Linked DNA regions of Homo sapiens: region 2 is linked to region 1. A link means that fine-mapping ties the variant in region 1 to the expression of a gene that starts in the linked region. Tissue or cell type: whole blood. Region 1 holds a variant in brackets; the other region holds the start of a gene. All regions are shown on one strand. Distances are from middle to middle.

The links. PIP is the estimated chance that this variant, and not a neighbour inherited with it, causes the effect.
Region 2: ASB3 starts here. The variant in region 1 is fine-mapped to the expression of ASB3 in whole blood (INTERVAL, PIP 0.94).

What each region holds. Positions count from the first base shown.
Region 1 is chr2:53,656,777-53,659,540 of GRCh38, reverse strand. No RefSeq gene overlaps it. Among named protein-coding and RNA genes, the nearest start is that of CHAC2, 110 kb to the left of the region's middle. The variant C/G (reference allele first, on the strand shown) is at 1,609.
Region 2 is chr2:53,785,291-53,787,913 of GRCh38, reverse strand. ASB3 (ankyrin repeat and SOCS box containing 3) reads left to right here and starts at 961. Exons shown (of 10, transcript NM_016115.5): 1 at 961-1,093. The region is part of intron 1 of GPR75-ASB3 (GPR75-ASB3 readthrough); the gene reads left to right. ERLEC1 (endoplasmic reticulum lectin 1) reads right to left here and starts at 870. Exons shown (of 14, transcript NM_015701.5): 1 at 542-870. The coding sequence starts at 703. RefSeq lists enhancers at 878-1,297, 813-1,471.

The DNA of each region.
Region 1 (2,764 bases):
GCTTGGCCGAGTGGTTATCACTCAGGGTCTGTCATGAGGTTGCATTCAAACTGTAAGCTGGGGCTGCAGTGATCTAAAAGCTTGATCAGGGCAGAAGGAGCCACTCCAAGATGGCTCACTCACATGGCTGTTGGCTGGAGGCCTTGGTCCCTCACCACATGCACCTCTCCATACAACTGCTTGAGGCTCCTCTCATGTCAGCTCGCTTACTCCAGTGCAAGTGACCTTAGAGCAAGGTGGATGCCACAGTGTCTTATAATCTATTCTTGGAAGTCACACACCATCATTTCTAATCTGTTCAATTCATTTCAAGCAAATCACAAAGTACAGCCCATACTTAAGGAGAGAGGAACTAGGCTTTGCTTTTGGCAGGAAGGAGTATCAAAGAATTTGTGGACAGCTCTTTAAACTACAACACTTACTTCCTGTAAATTAGTAGTCAGATGTAGACATGAATGCAACATACTTTGGGCCCAGTGCAAAATGAAAATGTTGGACCTGTTGTTCAAATTTCCCTTCCTCCCCTCCCTTCCCCTCTTCTTCTCTTTCCTTTTTTTTTCTTTCTTGCTCTTTCTCTCTCCCTTCCTTTCTTTCTTGCCCTCCCCTCACTCCCTCCCTCCCTCACTCCCCCCTTCCCTCACTCCCCCCCCTCCCTCCTCACTCCCTCCCTCCCTTCCTTTCTTCCTCTCTCCCTCCTTCCATTGGTTTGGCTCTGTATCCCCACTCAAATTTCATCTCAAATTGTAATCCCCACATGTTGTGGGAGGGACCTGGTGGAAGGTGATTGGATCGTGGGAGCAGATATTCCCCATGCTGTTCTCATAAGTTCTTGCAAGCTCTGATGGTTTAAATAAATGTGGGACTTCCCCACTCGTGCTCGCTCTCTCCTGCCACCTTGTGAAGAAGATGCTTGCCTCTCCTTGCCTTCCACCATGATTGTAACTTTCCTGAGGCCTCCCCAGCCATGTGGAACTGTGAGTCAATTAAACCTCTTTTCTTTATAAATTACCCAGTCTCAGGTAGTTCTTTATAGCAGTGTAAAAACGAACTAATTCTTTTTCTTTCACACAGGGTCTTGTTCTGTCACTCAGGCTGGAGTGCAGGGGTATAATCATAGCTCACTGCACTCATGAGCTCTTGGGCTCAAGGGATCCTCCTGCCTCAGCCTCCCAAGTAGCTAGGACTACAGGCATGCACCAGCATGCCTGGCTGATTTTTGTATTTTTTGTAGATACAGGGTCTCGCTATGTTGCTCAGGATGGTCTCAAACTCCTGGCCTCAAGTGATCCTCCCACCTTGGCCTCCCAAAGTACTGGGATTGCAGGTGTGAGCCACCTTGGCTGGTCCAAACAGGGCAGCAGAACATAAAATGGGACCCTTCTGAGCTCAGAGCCCTGTGAAACTGAATAGATTACACCTATGAAACCAGTCCTAGATGTAGAGGCTTCCTCGGATTCAGATTCAATACTCATACACTTTCTGTCTTGCATACTGTTTCATAGATGTTGGTTACTTCATCTCTCCTAGTGATATTAGCAGCAATTGGTGATCACTAGCTGGATCTATTAATTCGTTATAGTTTTCTTTACATACTAGCTGTGATAATTT[C/G]AACAGAAGAATTTCCCTTGATAATTTGGTTACTCTGAGATCTGGTTTGTATAGAAAAAATAGTTATTTTCCTTTATTTGCCAGTTTTCAGAATAATGAATTAGTTCTCTAATATCCTTTAAAGATGGTCGATAGGCTTTTTGTTAACTTTTAAGTTCAGGGGTACATGCGCAGGTTTGTTACATAGGTAAACTTGTGTCATGGGAGTTTGTTATGCAGATTATTTCATCCACCCAGGTATTAAGTCTAGTACCCATTAGTTACTTTTCCTGATCCTCTCCCTTCTCCCACCCTCCTTCCTCCAATAGGCCACGGTGTGTGCTGTTCCCCTCAATGTGTCCATGTGTTCTCATCATTTAGTTTCCACTTACAAGTGAGAAAATGTGCTATTGGGTTTTCTATTCCTGCATTAGTTTGCTAAGGGTAATGGCCTCCAGCTTCATCTGTGTCCCTGCAAAGGACATGATCTCATTCTTTTTATGGCTGCATAGTATTGCACGGTGTATATATTCCACATTTTCTCCATCCAGTCATCATTGATGGGCATTTAGGTTGGTTCCATGTCATTGCTATTGTGAATAATGCTGCAATGAACATATGTGTGCATGTGTCTTTATACTAGAATGATTTATATTCCTTTGGGTATATACCCAGTGATGAGATTGCTGGGTCGAATGGTATTTCTGTCTTTAGATCTGTAAGGAATCGCCACACTGTCTTCCACAATGGTTGAACTAATTTACACTCCCACCAACAGTATATAAGTGTTTTTTTCTTCACAACCAGCATTAATATAATCATAGATTTTTGATGTTTTCTAATCTATTGCAGTTAATTACTCTTATTGATATTGATTGTCCTATCTTTAATTAGTGTTTAAGTATTCTTTGTTAGCTTTCTTGCGTTCTGGTAATAAGATAGTTCAGGTTTATGTTGTACATTTCCCTCCTCAGACCTGGAATCAGACCTATTTTTGCAAAGAATTTTGTTTGCTTTTTCAGAAATGTTATTATATGGACTGTAATACACATGACATGCATTGGGGAGCTCATTTCTACTGGTTTGATCATTAATCACTTAGTGGACAGAGCTAAGAAATACAGTCCTGCATCACATAACGATGTTTTGTTCGACAAACTGCATATATAATGGTGGT
Region 2 (2,623 bases), 130 kb before region 1:
CACAGGCCAAATAGCCCTCTCAGAAACAACTAGGAAAGGAAAAAGTTCCCTTGGAGCTGTGCGTTTGCGTATGTCCGTGTGTGTATACAACTGAGGGAGAACGAATACGAGAGAGGGAACTCGAGTCTGAAGTACTGTGGTGTGGGCAGGGTGACATGTAATACTGAAGGAAAGAAGTCTGCTGGTGAAGTAAGAGCCACAGTTAATTTTCCGAAAGGAAGATGAGTAAGTGCACCTGACGTTATTCTACGAAAGCTGCTTCTGCAGGGTGGGAATGTTGGGAAGCAAGGTCTAGTGCGACAGAATTGAAAAGGTGGAGAGCAGGTGATTGCTGGATCCCTAATGCTCAGCAAGGGGGACGCATCCACATAACGTGAGAACGAACGAATGAATGAACGCTGCATAAAAGCAGCTTTGGCTTGGGGAAGGTAAGAGTCTGCAGAGAAGGTCTTGGGGAGAAAAAGCAAAGAAAACCGAGGGAAGAGGCCGAACCCTTAGTGTCAGGAGGAGGGGTGGCTGCGGGGTTAGTGAGGGCACTGACCAGAGAGAACTCGGTGCCGGGCCAGTTGACTCGGAAAGGGATGTCATCGCTGAGTTGAGGAAGGGCTCGGCCGCCGCCGGACGCCTCCAGGAGGCCGCAGAGGACCAGTAACACCGGCCCGCCCGGGACCAGACTCCGTACGCCGCCGCCTCCTTCCTCCATCCTCCGCCGCCGCTTTCTCCAGCCACCGCCACAACCTCCTCTGCTCCAGGAGGAGAGGAGGAGGAGGAGGAGGTGGAGGAGGAGGCGGCGGGACTATAAAGCGCCCGGGTATCACCGGCCCAACCGCCGCCACGTCTCCTTCCGGAGAGCCCGGCAACGCCGCCTCCGCCCCCTTGAGCCTCCTGTCACCGTTTCCGGGGCAGACGACATATCAACATCCGGGGGTCGCGGAGCCGTCCGCCTACGGGGGCCGGGACGTCGCCTGCGCGTCTCTCGTTTTCGGACGGCTGCAGCATCGCGGTGGGGATCGAAAGCGGGGGCTTCTGGGACGCAGCTCTGGAGACGCGGCCTCGGACCAGCCATTTCGGTGTAGAAGTGGCAGCACGGCAGGTCGGTGAGTCTCGGAGGCGGCAGCCGCTTCCTGAAGCCATTCCCGCTGCTCTCCAGTGGGCAGGCAGAGGTTTGACCCACACGGAGTGATAGCGGGAAGAAGACAGTGTGAACCGTGCGGGTGCGGGTCCTTAGATGAGAAAATTCGAAGTAGCGATGAGATGTGAGAAATGGCGGTGTTCCTGACTGACCTGCCTTCTTGCAGCTTTTCTTCTTTTTCTCCGCATTTGGCATTTGTACACTTCATTTTTCCCGCTTGAGGCTTATCTCCATCTCTTCTGCTGTGGACCGTGGCCATCTCGTTACTTAACAGCTTCTGACTAACGCAGGGCAGTTTGTTCAGCGACTGCAACTCTGTGTTAGGGGAAACCTGGGGTGAGGTAGCCCGCCATCTCCCCGTAGGTGAATACCGCAAGCCTCCGAATTTGGCGTGGTGGGCGACTCTCGTGGAATGGGCAGCTAGACATCACAACCCTACATTTTTACCCTCCATCTCTAGATTGAAGTGTTGGGGTGTTGTTTTATCAAGGAAGCTGGTAAGGTTCCTTATGTGAGGTTTAGCGCCAGATGAATGTGTGTGTTTATGAACTAAGTCACGTCTGACTGCATCCCCAAATTAGACAAAAAGTTTTGTTTTTCCCTCCCCCTCTTTAGAAAAAATGCCATTGTCTGTTTTGATCTCCAATATAATGGACATAGAGTGTTGGCTTTAGAGAAATTACCATTCCCTAAAGCTCGACAGTCTTGCTAGATCTGTTAAAGACTGGTCGCCCCCACTTCCTCAGATTTGAACCAAATCAAAAAGCAGGAAGGACAGTCCCATATTCTATCTTAAAAATTTTTTTTTAACATCAGGAATCCATAGTATCAAAGAAGATAACTTTCTTCAGAATTGTTATTCGCTAATTATATTCAGCACTTCTTATTAATGCTTAATGTGATCCAGACTCCTGGGATTTTTGTTGTTGTTGTTTGTTTTGAGACAAAGTCTCGCTCTGTCACCCAGGCTGGAGTGCAGAGGCATAATCTTGGCTCACTGCAACCTCCGCCTCTGGAGTTCAAGGGATTCTCCTTTTTCTCAGCCTTCCGAGTAGTTGGGATTACAGGCGCGCGCCGCTACACCCTAATTTTTGTATTTTTAGTAGAGGCAGGGTTTCACCACGTTGGCCAGGCTGGTCTCGAACTCCTGACCTCGGGTGATCCGCCCTCCTCGGCCTTCCAAAGTGCTGGGATTACAGGCCTGAGCCACTGTGCCTGGCCCCCCTGGGCTTGGTAAAATGCCAAATAAATGGGTTTCTGTCTTTGGTCACACAGTCTAGGCAGGGAGATTGTACAAACAAATAATTGCAAACTATTATAGTAGTAATAGTCAATTTTTTTTTTTTTTAGCATTTATTCTGTGCTAAGCACTAGTCTTAAGTCATGAAGGAAAAGAGATGTATTTGACGGAATAAAAATGAAAACTGTCTGTGAGGTCCTGTTTTAGCATTTAGGGCTATAGTGATTGAATCTGTGTTCAATAGAGCTGAT